Regions from separate parts of the Homo sapiens genome. Here regions 1 and 3 are each linked to region 2. Evidence: fine-mapped expression QTL. A gene starts in region 2. Each other region holds a variant in brackets. All regions are shown on one strand. Distances are from middle to middle.

What was found. PIP is the estimated chance that this variant, and not a neighbour inherited with it, causes the effect.
Region 1: its variant is the best candidate, but not a certain one, in a credible set for the expression of TGFBI in whole blood (INTERVAL, PIP 0.62).
Region 3: its variant is the best candidate, but not a certain one, in a credible set for the expression of TGFBI in liver (GTEx, PIP 0.65).

The regions. Positions count from the first base shown.
Region 1 is chr5:135,897,134-135,902,857 of GRCh38, forward strand. No RefSeq gene overlaps it. Among named protein-coding and RNA genes, the nearest start is that of IL9, 4.2 kb to the left of the region's middle. The variant A/G (reference allele first, on the strand shown) is at 2,546.
Region 2 is chr5:136,026,547-136,032,270 of GRCh38, forward strand. TGFBI (transforming growth factor beta induced) reads left to right here and starts at 2,442. Exons shown (of 17, transcript NM_000358.3): 1 at 2,442-2,643. The coding sequence starts at 2,510. RefSeq lists an enhancer at 4,659-4,728.
Region 3 is chr5:136,981,430-136,987,153 of GRCh38, forward strand. SPOCK1 (SPARC (osteonectin), cwcv and kazal like domains proteoglycan 1) reads right to left here. Exons shown (of 11, transcript NM_004598.4): 9 at 3,711-3,773. Among named protein-coding and RNA genes, the nearest start is that of CTB-1I21.1, 250 kb to the left of the region's middle. The variant G/GAATAATTCTGTATTA (reference allele first, on the strand shown) is at 2,955.

The sequences.
Region 1 (5,724 bases), 130 kb before region 2:
TCTTATTATCTTACAGATGGAGAAACTGAGGCATAGAGAGGCAGGTAATTTGCCCAAAACCACAAAGCCAGGAAGCCGCAGAATTTGTATTCAAGCCCAGAAGTCTGCCTCCTGATTTCAGCTCTTAATCCTCCTGAACTCCTGTTTTTCTGCAGATCTTTTATCTGCCTCTCCCACCAGGATATATACTCCAGGGCTTTATGGGTCCAGTTCACCCCTATATTCTCAGCACTTAAGGAGGTGCCTGGGGAACTGTGGGCACTCACTAAATGCTTGTTGAATTAAAACACTAATTTGAAAAGTAGTTCTTGAAATACGAACTTCCTACTTCTGGGATTTATAAGATTTCAAATCTGATTTCTAGGATACATATTTGGAGGTATGTGCAGGTAAGTAAATATAGCTTCTACACAGTAGATTGAAAAGGTGAGGGGTTCTTTAGCTTAGCACTCTGAACTATAATAGCCAGTGGGGACAAACTCATAAGATTTCCTCGCCTCCACTGTAAGAGTATGGCAATACTGTTTTTTTTCATTTTGTATTGTTTCTTAGGAGTGATGATGGCTCGTCAGTGTTCCACTGCACTATGGGGAAGGGAGTGTCTTGGTGGTAAACAAGGTAAAGAGAAACAGGTGTTTTGCTAAATTCCCTTAAGCCATCCCACATCTCTGACTTCCATCCCTGCTCTTTGCAGACACTGAAGAGAAAACTCAAAGGATTCCCAGCCTGTGGCAAACACTTTTGTTACAAAGCACTGGATGTATGCCTTTTTCTTGATGGTAGAATTCTGATTAGTTTGGGGTACCAATGTATCCAGCCAAACACCCACATTTTCAGCCTCTTTTGCTGCTACATGTAGCCATGCAGCATGTTTCGATCAATGCAAAGTATGTAAAATTATTTTGCTTTCCTGGTAATAGGAGACAAAAGTGGCTGAACCCTGTCTTTCCCCTTAATTCCAATTTGGGTGTGATGGCAGGAGCTTCAGCAGCAATATTATAACTATGAAGAAATGGACAAGAGAATTACAGCAATGGCAACACTAACATTTTTCATAAATAGCAAATATTCAGAAAGGCAATAAAAAATAAAACCATGAGACTAACAAGAGAAGTAATAATAATAGTACAACAGTGATACTAAAATTCTAGCTAGCTATCACTGCCTACTGAGGATCCTGAGTTATAAAACCTGTTCTTGTTTAAAAAGAAAAGAAAAGAAAATTAGCATGCTTTGGAGAGATTTTAAAGATACATTACCATCAGACTAAACCTCCTTCCCTGACATTATTGGAAGACTTGAGAGAGATGTGAAAAGGCAATCATCTTTTCATTCTGTGAATCAATATTATCTGATGCTCTCTGTGTGAACCGTGGAAATCATTTCACCTGCCATCGGGTATGCCTTTCATATTGAGGAAAACACCACCCCACCCCTCCTGTTGTACAGATGGGGGCTTTGCCCAAGAAGAGAAAGCCACAGCTCTAGTTTCTAGCAGGGGATAGTACAGTGCAGTGGTTAAGACCGGTGACTCTAGAATCAGAATGCCTGAGTTCAAGTCCTGCCTCTATCACTTGCTAGCTCCATGGCCTTGGGGGATTGCTTGGCCTCTCCCAGCTTCCATTTCCTGACCGTAAGTGAGGATGGTGATGTGGAAAGTGGGAATGGGGATCTAGGGATGCAGTTGCAGTTGTCAGTTCTCACTCACTCGTAAGTGAGGATGGTGATGTGGAAAGTGGGAATGGGGATCTAGGGATGCAGTTGTCAGTGAAGGCTCCCCTCAGGGTACTCCCATAGAGATTAAAAGAAACAGCTGCTCCATCCCTAACTTGGTTTAAGTGGCATCCGGTTTGAAGTTTGTTAGGGCAAAGCAGCCGAGGTTAGCGGTCAACAAACTGTAATCCACTTTTCAGGTTGAAGGTAAGGTCTACAAGCTAAGAACAGTGTTTACCTTTTTAAGGGTTCAGAGGGTTAAAGTTTATAAAGAAATAATTAACAAATAAAAACAAGCATGTGTGATAGAGACCGTATGTAGCCCGTAAAGCCTAAACATTTATTATCTGGCCCCTTTACAGGAAAAGTTGGCCACCCCCTGGCTGAGTTCCCACACCCCACCCCACATTTTCTGAAGACATCAACTATTATCCTCCAGTCCTGGGAAGGGTAGAGCTAGGGGTTGGTTGCTCAGGTGTCTCTTCTCCCTTTCCCCATCTGGTTATTTAGGTCAGGTATCTGTACAGAGGGAAGGGAGCAGGGGACCTGGGCCACAGACTGCCAGATTATCCGAAGTGTTGGGGGCCTGCCATTTCCTGAGGCTTTTTGTGGAGTGAGCTCGCTGGTCCAATGAACCAAAGATCTTCTCTCAATGAAACCCGGTAGCTGCAGCAAAGATATCTCAGGCAGGCTCTGGTTTACTAGGAAAAGTCCCACATTTTGAAGTTAGGAGAAAAGTGAATGAATTAACAAGTTAAGTCTTGGCTTGACCAGCAGGCCTTGGGTCACCCACCTTCCCTGCTACCCTCAGGAGCTGGCTCAGGGTCAAGTG[A/G]TCCATGGCCACTGGTGTTCCTTGGGCAGGTTACTTACCCTTTCCATGCACCAATGCACCCCCAGTGCTCACTCACTTAGAGAAAGGAATGTAAGCCTTCACCCAGCCCTTCCTCATGAAAGAGAGGAGTGCTCCATTTGGGATATACTCTCAGGAATGAGGCATGTTTCTGTTTGGAAATGTGGTCTGGTCTGGTCCAGGTGCCTCGCTCTTTGATACCCCCTCATTACTACCCTCCCGTCACATCAGTTTCTTTTCATTTCCATCCTCCAGGCCTTTACCCTTGCTAAGCTTGGCCTGCTGGCTCCTTCCTCAGCTCCTCCCTACGTGACCTGTTCTCATCATTTAGTTTTCAGCTCAACTACAACCTCCTCAGCAAGACCTTCTCTGACCATAGCAATCACTGCCATCTGCCTGTGCCTCTTTCAGTGTCTGGTTCTCCCAGGAGAATGTCAGTTCCATGACAATGGACACTACAACGGACTCTCTTGCTCATCACTATTCCCAGGGCATAGTCTATACAGAGTGCTCAGGAATTCCTGGTTAAATGAATAAATGACTAATACATTTAATTTTGTGAACATTTATTAAATTTGTGTTACTGATGAAATGACCAACACATGGTTCCCAGTAGACAGGTAACAAACAAAAAGCAGATGTCACATTTACCTGAACAAGGAACACATTTGAAAAGTGATTAACCAACAAGGGAGTAAAGCCTCCTGCAGTTCTGTAGTTCCTTACATTGGTGCAGGGTTTGAGAATTTCTGAAGTGCTTTTCAACCGCTTCTTTCTTTGGACTCTTATACTAACTGCATGAGGAAGGCATGCGTGGTGCAGGAGCTCCTCTGCAAAGGATGAAACAGAGAGAAGGAGACAGGTGAGGTGACTGGTTCTTTAGAATTCTTTCCCATTTCCCCACCCACTCAGTTATAAAAAAGAAAAGAATACAGGGTTGTTAAACGGTAGCTCTGCAGTTCAAAATACCATTAAAACAGCAGATGTTTATCTAGGCAAAGTCTATGACTTTTGAGGTTTAACTCCTAGGATTTCTTTCAGTATCAAAATGTAAGTATGCATATAAGCTACAGAGCAAATACACCACGCTCAGAAATCAATTACTCACCTATTTTAAATATCAAGATTAGAGTGAGATGCATACCAAGAGTTATCATAGATAACATATTTTACAATAAATGACAAAAGACAATGATCAACCATTTATTTTGTTCCAAAGATAAAGTTTGATGTTTTTATTTTGTGATAAAAGCTCATATGTCATGGATTATTTCTCTAGGAATAAAACAAAATGGTTATGTGTTCTAGGAAGGCACAGCATAAAATGACCAAAAAAAAAAAAAAAAGGCACTGCATTTCCAAGTAAAACCTGTTCTGCCTTTTACTCCAAGCAGCCAAGAGGTAACTAGTTATGAGAATCCTCAAGTGCTAATTTCCTAATCAAGTAGTTATTTCTAGATCACTACTTTCTAAGTAAGCATGATGGGGTAAGCCCCACTGGTGATGCTGTCCTTCGGTTGGGTCTTCTCTCCGTGGAAGGGGAACCCAGGACCCCTTCCCTCACATCCTGCCTGAGCAAACCCTGTGTCTGCTGCCCTTGGAAGCTACTGTTCCCTGTGTGGCCCCACACAGTTTTCTCTGAGCTCCAAGACCTAGGATCTATTTCTTTCCTCCTTCCTCTCACTTCTCTTTCCTCACTGTTGTTGGTTAATAACAATCTGGGCTATCCTTGTAAATGGAATTTCACATCCTCCCATTGGCATAGTCCACCATTACTTGAGACATGCCCCTGTATTTCTCAGAGACTATGGGACTCCCCCAACTCCCCACCCTTTGCTGTGGCCAATTCATTGATGTCCATCTAATTAAGGGAGGATGAGAACTGTTGTTCTGGATTACACTGGAGCCTTAAGGCATTAGAATTTGTTAAATCTTCCTGTGCACAAGATAACTTATTAAGCACTTTATATATATCATCTCACTCAGCCCCCTCAACAATCTTTATTAACCCTATTTGTAGATATCCAAATGGAAGCTCAGAGAAGCTAGGAGAGTTGCCATAGACACACAGCTGGCAACTTGAATGAGATTTACCAGACCCCAGAGCCTGTGTTCTTATCTGCAAGGCCATAAATCAATCTCCACTTCTGTTGACCGATACTCTATAGGCTGTACTCCAAGTCTACTTAATACAAGCAGAAAATCAAAGTATGCCTTTGGGGAAGAGGGAGGTGGATTCTAGGCCTCAGCTATATCTGTGTCCTGGGGCTGCCATCACAAAGTATACAAACTGGGAGACTTAAAGCCACGGAAATTTATTCTCGCACAATCTTGGAACCAGAAGTGCAAATCAAGGTGTTGACAGGGTTGGAAGCAGCCTGACTACTGCAGAAGTGGCTGTTGGGAAGAAGTGGAAGATGAGGCTAGAAGTTCTGAACGGAAGGACAGAGCCCTGTGTCATCAAGATTGCATTGACCACAAATCACAAAACCCCAGTTAACACTGACTGGAGTGATAAGGAAATTTGCCATCTCACAAAACACTGCATCTGTGGATACGGTGGGTCCTGGGGTGGTCGGATCTGCAGCTCTGAGATCTTGTGGACAGGCTGCTTTGCCACTCTGTGGGTTGACTTCCCTCCCCTTGGGGCTATAAGATGACTGCCCAGTTCCAGGGCTCACGTCCACTCATGACAATATAAATCCTACATTTGGAATGAATGGTCAAGTATTTGCAACCCTTTCACTCTCAATACGTTTTGCCAAACTGTCCTCCAGAAATATGTTCTAACATATAATAATAGAATTTATAATTTATAATAATCCCATTAGTCACGTTTAAGAATGTCCACTTCTGACATCCTTATCAACACTGGACAGTGATTTTTTATTAACCTTGGCCGTGTGTCTGGCAAATTTATGATGCTAATACATATGTATTGAATTCATAAATTAATGAATTCTTGCTTTTTTATATTTCTTCACTTGTGAGTTACCTGTTAGTGCCCAGATTTCTGTTGGTATATTAATCTTTTGCTTACTGATTACTAAGAGTTCTTTGTGTATCTTTGTTTTTCAAATATATTACATTTATTTTCTTCTGTTTATTGTTATGCTTGTAGTGTTTTCTGACTGTGTTTTCATGTGGTCAAACATATAACA
Region 2 (5,724 bases):
TATTTGAACCCATCTTCTCCTTTTCTTCTCCTTCCTCCTCCTCCTCTCTTCCAACACCTGCTCCCAAGGAAGCTCATCCAGTGCATGACTTTAGCTACCACCTGCTCGTAGTGGTGACTCAAATCTGCATCTCCAATCCTCATACCTATCCTGAGCTCAAGACCTTTGAATATAGCTCCCTCCTGTCCATCCCTCCTGGAAATGCAGGTGGCTTGTTCACACATAATGTGAACACAAATGGAGCACTCTCCTCACACACCCAAATGTGCACCTTCACCAGCGTGCCCAGCACAGGCATCCCTTCCTGCCAGCTATGAGCCTCGAGGTTAGCTCTACTCCCCCTCCCTAACCCTGCATGCCCAAGGGGTTTCCAAGTCTAATCAATGCTACCACTAAAATCTCCCATACACCTGTTCCCTCCTCTCCACTAGCTTGATCACTCCCCATGCAGGCCCTCAGTTGCTTTATGCTCTCAGTAGGCCCTCCTCCAGTGCCCACACTCTCTCCCTTCTCCTTCCCACCTTCTTTCTACCAGAGTTCTAACCTCTCCAAGCCCCGCTTGTCTTTTTCTTTCCCTGGCTGCCATCCTAACTCGCCCCTTCCCTTCTCAGACAAGCTTCTACATGCTACTCATCTCTCCATCAAACCACCATATTCGGGCTTTGGCCATCTGCTCTCCACAGCCAAGTCCCCAGTGGCCTCTCTGCTTCTGACACAGTGAAAGCCATTCAGATCTGTCTTGTTGGCAGCATTCCTCACTTTGAGCAGCGCCCTCCTACTAGGATACCCCTCCTTGACTACAACCCCACATTCTCTACTTCCTGGGCTCTTCTGTCACTGGAGGATGACTCCCAGGTGTGAATCTTCATCCCGCGTCCCTCACTCAAGCCCCCGATCCTCATATCCAGCTTTATCCTCATGGGATGCTTCACCAGGATGAGTCATAAGCACCTCAGACTCAGGGTGTCCCAAACCACTCATCTACCTGGCAAGCCTGCACTCTGCATGTGCCTCATTCTGAACATGGCACCATCACCTGCTGCAATGTCCAGACCACAAACACCCTACAATATCCTTGACTCTCCTTTCTCCCCTTCTCCCTGTATACAGACTCCAAATTCTATTGAGACTATTACCTCCTACACCCCTCACATTTGCCCAGCCTTCCCCATCTCTGCCTCTACCACCATAGTTCAAGCTCTCCCATGGTCCCTTCCTGGTTACCTGTTCTTCTTGCCTCCTTAAGCCTCTCATGACACTGGCCATGTCACTTGCCTCCACCCATCACCCGCTAGGCTCTTAGCTGGAGTCTGGGCCCTGCTACCTTCCTCCCCTTCTTCCCTACCCTTGACTCCACCTCCCTGTGCTTCAGCCAACCAGATAACTTGAGTTTCGTGAATGCATGCCTCAGTTTACCTGATTAACTCATTTTCATCTTTCAGGCCTCAGAGCAGGTATCACCCTGTCAGGGCCAGGTGCCTCTTCTTAGCTCCCAAAGCCCCAGCTACTCTTCATGGAACATCATTGGCTTGGGCTACGGATCTTCCCAAATTGGAGCTTTTTCACAAAGGGCTTAGGTCTCACTCATTCTATTAATCCATCTGTGTCTCCCCAGGGCTAGCAGTGCCAAGTAACTGACAGGTGATTAATAGATGCTTGGGTAAGTATCACCTCTTTACCATGTGACAATTTGTTTACCTGCCTTGAGCTCCTCCAGGGCAGGACTCTTGCCTTTGCAGAATCTATCTGGCAGGTACTGTTGCAGAGATGTTTACTGAAGAAGGGAATGAATTAGTACCAAGGTGAGGACCCCACCCTTCCCCACGGGCTCCAAAAGCAGCTTAGAGCCCAACAAAACCTGCCCCACATTTTTGGCGTTTCTGTGGATCACACGATTTACTCATCTGTCTTTCAATGAGCATGACAGGTGGGGTGGGGGTGGAGGGATTAGAGATTGAGGAGCTGGGGAGGGTGGTCAGCTCCTGGGGTGCAGAAACAAGTCTGATGGGCCATGGTGTTCTGGGAATCAGCACTGCCTCCCCTCACCCCTCCCTGCAGTGTTTTGTAGCCTCAAGATCAGTGAGGGAATCTTCGGGCCCCCAGCATGCAGGACCGAAGCCCCCGAGACAGCTGTCCCTCAGTCCCAAGGTCCCCATTTGGAAGCAGCCACAGGAGGCCTAAGGGACCTATACCCTTGGTTTGAGGAAGACTGTGGCGAGGGAGAGAGGGAGGGAGGGCTGGCAGTGAGGGCAAGGGCTGGGAAAACTGAGCACGGGCACAGTGCGGGAGCGGGTGGGTGCCCAGGGCAGCCAGGGGCGCACGGGTTGGGAGGCGCCAGGCGGCCCGCCCTCCTTGCACGGGCCGGCCCAGCTTCCCCGCCCCTGGCGTCCGCTCCCTCCCGCTCGCAGCTTACTTAACCTGGCCCGGGCGGCGGAGGCGCTCTCACTTCCCTGGAGCCGCCCGCTTGCCCGTCGGTCGCTAGCTCGCTCGGTGCGCGTCGTCCCGCTCCATGGCGCTCTTCGTGCGGCTGCTGGCTCTCGCCCTGGCTCTGGCCCTGGGCCCCGCCGCGACCCTGGCGGGTCCCGCCAAGTCGCCCTACCAGCTGGTGCTGCAGCACAGCAGGCTCCGGGGCCGCCAGCACGGGTAAGCCGAGCCGCCTGGCCAGGGGCTGCGGAAGGTCAGGTAGTCGGGGCTCGGAGCGCAAGCCGCTGGGGGCATTGAACTGGGCTGGGGGCGCAGGGGACAAAGCCCGAACTAAAAACCTTGCAGCATGGAGCGCTCGGACACCAGCCCTGCACGCGGTGGAAGGAGAGAGGGAGGGAGGTGGAGGACCATGGAGGGAAAGCGGGAGGCCGCCGCTTTGTAGAAGGGAGTGGGGAAGTGGACCAGAGACTTTCGACGCAGGCCAAGAGCCTGAGACGGACAGCGCTTTCAGCTTCTCCTCCCAGCCACTGCAGAAAGGGGGAAATGGCAACTCTTTGGCCATAATCACCGTGGGAGGGTGCCAAGGGCAAAGCCCACCCAGCAGTACACCTATTCCAACCCAGCCAGGCCCCCGGCCAGCGACTCCAGACAAGAACCTGGGCCACACACGGTGGCAGCATCTAAGGTGCCCCAGGCTCCTGTGCTCCTGGCCAGGCCCTGCACTCAGACACTGCTGGCACCCGACACTGCTCTCTGGGTACAGCAAGGGCAATGTGGCACTTCTTGTCCTGCCCGATGAAGAGCAGGAGAATGCACTGGGCCCTCACACACACTGTTCAAATGGGGAAACTGAGTCCTGAGTGGTTCCACTTTCCCACAGTCCTGAAGTGTGCACTGGAGCCAGGATTGGAGTCTGTCTTAAAGTAATAGCTGGGTTTGTAAATGTAGGACACTATCATTGCAGGAATTCCTTTGAGACCCTGAAGATGTGTTGGCTTTAGGAGACAAACTCAAGCAGAAGGTCTGGTCTGATAGTGGCCCTAATACTGACCCAGGCAGAGGCAGGCAACATTTCTACCTCAAAAACCAGGCCATACCTGCGTCACAAATACCCAGGCTTTGCTGCAGCTTCCAGCCTACCTGGTTGCACCAACTTCTTTTTCATAACTAGGTAAAACTATATATGAGTAGAATCTTGTAGTGACTCCTCAGAGGAAGCCTAAATACCATCGGGGTCTGGCGTTCACACCCACAAGCAATGCCCAAACCTCCAAGAGACTGGGCAGATCTGTGCTCAAATCAAAACTCATTGTTGGGGGTGATAGAGTTGACTTCACAGGCCCTGAAAGTCTTGGCTCCTTGCACTAGGAGTGCTCTGGGTACGGGTACAGGCTGCCCCTTGTAGGGCATAGTTGCTCTTGTTTCCTCTACTTGTGGCTTTATGGTCTAGGCCTTTCAGGAGTTTGGGGCTCTGGCGGAGAGGGCCTGCTGGGAGCACATCTGGCCACCCTGCAGAGTGAAATCAAACCAGGCCTGGCTGCAACCTCAACACCCTCCTGGAAAGAGGAGAATACTGGGGATATCCTGGGGTCTTTCTGGAAGTGGGAGAATCAGCTTTGACTTGGGCAGTGTGCAGAATAGAGTGAGGGGGGATGTCAGAAAGATGAGAGGGATATGAGGCCTCAACATCAAAATGCAAGCACCTGGCATTTTTATTATCTCTGCCCACCTCTCCGTTGGTCTCTCTGCCTTTCCTGCCAATGAATTGTGTTATGTTTGGGTGCCTCAATTTGCCTAGGAGGGTTCTATTTCTTCTGTATCTTCGCCACTAAGTCAGGAGAAGATCCTTATAGCATGCCCTGCAACAGTGTCACCTGTAAGGGCATCTCTCTGCACAGCCACAGTGAAGGATCCTCAAAGGTATTGAGGGCTTTCCATCAAGAGCCATCTTTACAGCAAACCTCTTTCCCTTCAGAGCCCAGAAGAGTGCTGACCAGCTGGAAAACAGGGTTTTTTTCTTAAATGCAGATGCTCTTGATTATGAGTTCCAGATATTAGATCAACTTCCCCACCATACCCCTGCAGGCAAAGCCTCTTAATTAGCTTCCTGCAGCACAGCTGGAAAGGCCTATTGTAATCTGTGATGGGCAGAGTAATCTAAGAAGTCACAGGAGCACCCCTGTCCCAGTAGAATCTGGATGCGCAGGCACATGAACCATGGCAAAATGGTTGCAGGCACAGTTGTATTTACTCTGATCTAACTGTCCCTGTTAATGCCACAGGGCTGCCTGGCCTGGCACACAGGGCTGTGGCGCCTTGTGCAAATGGATAACGTTGTTCTAGCTCCAGCCTTTCATTCAAAGTGAAAACTGTTAGAAAGGGAAGGAAAACTTTGCTATTTTAAGGAATTGTAGCGTGCTGCCTGATATGAAGGAAGAAATAACAGCTGTGCCTTGCTTGTGCGCAGCACTCGATTGCCGCTTTTGCTTTCGACCTCACCACAACACAGTGAGATCTACTGTTCATGTTCCCATTTTACAGGAGGTGAAACTGCAGCTTAGTGAGGTAGAGAGTGACTTAGTTCAGACACAGAATGCTGTTGGGAGAGTAATAACTATGATATGGTCTCTTGACTCCCAGCTATATCTGTGTTGCTATAGGGAAGGGGAAAAATAATACTGAAAGAGAAGTAAAAATACAATCACACTTCCAAACATCAACCACCAAAAACTGAACTGAATTTCCTGAAGCACTTGGTTTTCAAATCTAAGCTGAACATCAATGCTGTTATTCTTGAGGCCCAGAAGCAACTTGCTCATTTCAATTAAGCTTCAGCATGAACTTCCTATGTACACAGCCCACCCACACTCCCCGATGTGAGAAGGAGAGGGTCACAGCCGCCCCCAGCCTCTGCTGCTGCCACAAGGACAGCAGCAGTGGAAACATTCAGCAAAGGAATGTTGGAGCCACATCCACAAGAGACTCACTGAAGATTCGCCAAACGCCTACGGAAAGTGGCAGGGAATTCATTGACAGTAATTGTTTCCTGCTTGATCAGATTGAAGAGCTTCTGGGATTCTGTAACAATAAATAGGACCGGGGGCTGGAGTATGGCCAGCAAGGACTCTTCAGGGGTTATTCAGGGACTGTCTAACCTGTGAATCCTAGGCAGCAAACAGAAACCAGGTATTCAGAAATCTGGAGGATTTGGTCAGGCCCAGCTAGGACTAGGGAGGCATGGGCCTCTGCTGGCTGTGGTCCCTTCTCCAGCCTTCACTTCTCTTGTCCCTAGATCCTTAC
Region 3 (5,724 bases), 950 kb after region 2:
AATTTTATTTTGATCCTTTTTTATAAATGCATTTGACGCTATGAAGTTTCACTTAGTTGCTTCCCATGTATTTGGTACACCATGCTTTCATTTTCTTTCATTTCTAGATATTTTGTAGATTTTTCTTTCTTCATCTTTGATCAATTTTTATTCATGAAACCAAATGTATGGGGGTTTAGTAATCTCATATTTTACTTCTATTGGTATTGTGTTGTGGCCGGTAAGTTTGATCTGTGATCATTTATTTGAAATTTGTTTTCTTCTGTGGTACGGTCTGTGGCAGATGTTTGAAAGACTACATTCAATGCCTAGATTCAGGAATACATATATAAGCATGAATGCTAACAAATCTTAGTCTACTTGAACTGTAGGTTTCAGGAAGTGGTATGTCAAAGTTTCTGAAAACCACTGTGGCTATAATTCGCCCTTACAGTTCTATTCCATTTTAAGTTATGAGTATAGTCATGTGCCACATAATGATGTTTTAGTCAACAATAGACTGTATATGTGACAATGGTTCCATAACATTATAACACCATATTTTCACTAGCCTTTTCTATGTTTAGATATAAAAATAATTCCCATTGTGTTACAATTGCCTGTAGTATTCAGTACGATAAAATGGTGTACAGGTTTATACCTAGGAGCAATAGGCTATACCATCTAGGTCTGTGTGAGTATACTCTATGATGTTTACACAATGACAAAGTCACCTAATGACACATTTCTCAGAACCTATCCCTGTCATTAAGCAAGGCATGTCTATAGAGCAACTGATGGCATAATATGGTAAAAGGGATATTTCAGCGAGATGATTGCATTATAAAAAACAGATTTGCTTTGTCAGATATTAATGTTGTTTAAAAAAGAGTATTTACCCTCATTTAATTTCAACTTTCTGTGGAATTATTTTTGTATAACTCTCCTTTAAAATACTAATCAATAATAATAAATGTGTTTGACCTGTTCACATTTATTGTGATTACAGATATTGTGATTACAGAAATGCTTACTCTTATTTCTGCCACCATATCTGTTTCCTACTTACTAAGTTTTCTTTATACCTTGTCTTTTTTCCATAGGTTTAAAACATATATTCTAATATTCTTGTGGTTACTCATATTTTCCACAGGGGAACATAGTTTTTCCTAGTAAAATCTACAGTTAATCTATACAGATTTTTTTTTTCATGAACAAACTAGAAGCTTAACACATTCTTACCACCTTTTTCTCACTTCCCCCAATTGTCTGGAATTTTAATTCCAGGTTGCCATATAACTATTTTTATTGGTCTTAGCAGAATTGTCATTTCTTTTTCATTATTGCATCTGAATAGTTCTTTCTGGGATCATTTGTTTGGTAGAATAAATCCTTTAGTGATATTTAAGTGAGTCTGGGGTTAGTAAGCTGACTGAATCTTAGATGGTTTCAGAGTACCAGAGTACCTCTGTCATCACACTTGAATGATCACTGGGATAAATTTTAAATTGTAGGTTCATAATTATTTCCCCTTGGCACTTTGAAGATACTGATTCTCATTGTACTGTGGGTAATCTTTATTTATAATAGTTTTTAGTTTTGGTTTTCCTTACAGGGTAGGTGTGTTTCTTGATAGTGTGCATCTTCTATGGAAGAATTCTTCCTCTTTGTGTAACCTGGGTGGTAACACCATCTACATCAGCCTCCTGAAAACAGAGGTTCCTGCCTTCCACTGTAGCTTTCTATGCCCTAATTTAATTTCTGATTTTGTGAGCGTGCTTACATTTTCAAATTTGCCTTTTATTTAGTGGAACAATCCCAGAATAAAAGTGTGGCATGGGAGGGACAGATTTCTCCTATTTTGAACCAAGACTTCAACCCAGACCCAGGTGACTCTAGGGTCTAGTCTAGAACATGCTACTCACCAGGCTATACCAAGATGATCATATTCTCAGAGATTAAATGAGACCATGGAACACCATGTCTATCACTTAGGAAAGGCTGCTGATGCCACAGTTAGAAGCTTAGTGGTATCCACCCTCTCATTAAGGAGTGTACGCCATTGCATGCTATCAGTTTTCAAAGAACAGTAGATAGAAAAGAAGGAAAATGTAGATGCGGTCAGTAGCCCAAAAAGAGATTTGTGAACAGATTCTCAATCAAGGACTGCAGAGAAAGTGAACATGTAGAGAGCTGGCTCCTCCTTGGACCAAAAAAAAAAAAAAAATGGGCTGAGGCCCTGGGTTGGTAAGAAGCAGGTGCTGCTCTAAAACTACAATGCAATAATTATAGCTGATAATAATTTGTTGATTGTTTTATTTATTTGACTCTGTATACCCCTGACTACATAAAGAATTTGTAAGCAAATGGCATTTTTTCTGAGTCAGCTGGAGTAATCTCCATATGTGGGAAATGTGATAAAGCAAGCTTTAAAACAAAATGGGATTTATTTTAACAGAAAGGTAGGCATTTCATTCATGTGCACTGGGGTAAATGAGACATCTTATCACAGGTGACCCTTACCAATGAGGCAATGTATGTTTTAATAAACAGCAATGTACTAATTCTACAACTACCTGCAGATCATAGGTACGTCACTCAAAATAATATCCCACATGGAGAAATGAGATCAATAAACAAACACAAGTCTTTGCACTAGAAAATCCTATGGAGGAGGGATCCAGCCACTTTGCCTTCAGACCAGAAATATATCTTTATGTCCTTTTACTCAGCAGAAGAATGTAGGCCTAAAGAGTTCGAAATCCTGACAACTTTGGGGAAGTCTACATGCATTTTGAAATAACTCAAAAAATCCTAAGAGAAGAAAATCACCGGAATTCATAGACTGCCTACATTTGACAATCTGCAAGAAAACTTGCCCATTTCCTTCTCTATTCATTTCCTTCAAATGAATAGAGAAACTTCTGAAATGGCAGGCTGCTTGGGGAATGCATCTGCCTCTGAATGCTTCACGG[G/GAATAATTCTGTATTA]AATAATTCTGTATTACTGTGTTGCAGCTGACACCTCTTTTTTTAAAAGCAAGGAAAGCAAAGCAGGCTCCTCCTTTCTTCAGCAAACCAATGAGAATGGCCAGTGTTTCTATGACAAATGCCAGGACTTCCTCCACGTGCTGGAGAAAGGCAGGCTTGGAGCTAAAGGGGACACTTTGAGAGGACTGCAAGTTGTGCATGTTAGGGGAACACACATTCACTCAACCCACTTGCTTCCGTGGTGTCCAAACAGCCTGCATACTTTCCTGGAGGGATTAGGTGAAGGTAGAAATAGGCTTAAGCACATACATGTCGTTCAACCCTGTTTGATAAATTCTGAAGAGAGTACAGCCCATCTGCCTCCTTCAACAGACAATCCTATCCGGGGAATGGAGGAAATGCTATAATTTTTAGACCTTATAGTTTGAGCACTTGAGAGCACCATTCAATGATCTTACTTAGAAAAAGCCAAGATTTGTTTTAGCCTAAGATCAGGGAGGAGTTAGCAGTGGGGAAGGTGCTGGACTTCGGCCCTGGCTGACCTCTCTTCCTGCCGAAGGAACACACAGCAGTTTTCAACCAGCCAGTCCTCTGTTTATGTCCAGCTGCCTGGAAGAGCTCTGCCTGGGGTTAAAACAAGGCATTTCTTTCATGAAACACTAGCCCTAATTGAATAACCATTGCCATGCTGATCATTACAAGGGACATGGCTGGCTTAATTAGTTGTTTAAATGAGTGGCAAGAAATTGTACTTACCCAACAGGCTTTTCCCCTTACTCAGCTTCTGAATTCTGTTCATTTCATTCTGGCAAGGGAGACCTAAAAAATAATTTCTGAAAGTCAGCTTCCAGATGGTATGGAGTATAATCGCTAATGATTGACTTCACTCTTGATGTGAAATGTAGACAATGACACACCTGGGAGTGGAATTGTTCCATATGCTGTTACTATGCAAGAAAACAAATTCGGGCCATTAGTGTTACTAGTTAAAAAACAAACCTCATACCACAATGCACTTAAAATAGTATTTGGGGGCCACTTGCATTGCATAGAAATTTTTCTTTCTAGTACCAACTCAAGCAAATACCAAGTATCTAATAGGTGGTGTAATGGACTTTTTCCTTTCTATCAGGAAGCAAGTAATCAGCCAAGGCTTATTAGTGGGGAAGTGTTCTGAATCCACAGACGAACTAACCAGAGGTGACAAATACTTATATAGCCTAGGTTTTCCTGTAGGAAAGGATGGATAGGAATGGTTACTTCAGACCTCACCACCCCCAGGAAAGTAAAATAGGCTTTGAGGGACAACTATGAAGATACAGAAGAGATCTGGAGAAGCACTGATGAGACTTTGTATCTAGGCTCTGCCACCTCCTAGCTGAATTCACCTGTCCCAGCCTCTGGGTCCTCAGCGGCAAAATGCATGTCATAGAAAAGAAGTTAGTTTCATTCTAAGCAAAATGAAAAGTGACCTCATTCATTCTTCAGAGTTTTACCATGATTTGCCTTTGCAGACCTTGTGGCTCTGGGAGTTCTGCTATTTGTTCATGGTTCATCCTGTCCTTGGCAGAGGAGTTCTGGTTCTCTGAGTTCTTATCTTTGGCTGATACTGCCTCTTTCTGCAGGCCCCACACTTGCATATAAAGTATCTAAGCAACCATTTACAACTCTTACCCTGTAGACTGCACAATGCTACCTGGTCTTGCTGCTTGTTCCATGAGAGAAACTGCTTGTAAAATACATTTTGTTGACTTCTTGTTTTAAGATGCTTTCAGAGTAAAGGAGAAACAAATTTCATCTGGATTATAAAAGGTAGCATTTCCTGGATGCTGTGCCACAGGAAGGGGTTCTGGCTTTCAGCAACTGCAAGAGTAAGGGCAGTCTATCCAGAGATGTCCCATGTGGCCAGGTGACCAGCTCTGGCACTGTTACCTCCAGGCAAGCATTAACACATAGGCTCTGTGTTGTAAGGAAACCATGCTAAAAATCACATGTTACAATACGAACTCAAACCTAAAACTATCACTAGTCTTAATGCTGAGAATCACTACAAGTATTTACACTACTAAAATTTTTAAATGGCTATTATCTTAACATTGATTTTAGGTACTAACAGATGTAATTAGAAAAGAAAAATGAGGTATAAAAATTGAAAATGAAGAGAAAAATTATCACTATTTGCAGATGATATGATTGCACACCCGAAAAATCTAAGCAAACCAACCAGAATAACTTAGAAACAAAGCAAGATTTTAGTAAGGTGGTTGAGAACAAAATTAATGTTGAAACCACCAGGGAGGGAATATAGTGCAAAAAAACACCTATTTCAGTTACAATGGTAGCAATAATAAATACAAGGGAAGTATAATAATTGTTAGAACAAAATTTCAAAATTAACACCATGGGTTGATAGATCCTGTTCTAAAACAAAATGATTCCATATTATACAGCTATTGATTTTTATTTGATTAATTTTTCCTGATACTTAAAAATTACCAATAGGAATTGTTTTTAATTGGATAAACTGATGCTAAAGTTCACACAGGGAAAGAAACATACTAATATCCAGGAAAATTCTAGAAAAACAGTAATGGCAGCAAAGGACAGTTCTACCAGGTAGTAAAACATATTGTAAAACAACTGTGATTTAAAAGTCTAAAACTGATTTATTTTATATATATATATATAGCAACTGGATGACCATCTCCAGGGAGGCTGGGAGCCTACTTGACTGTGTAATACACAATCTAGACTGATACAGAATTTAAGT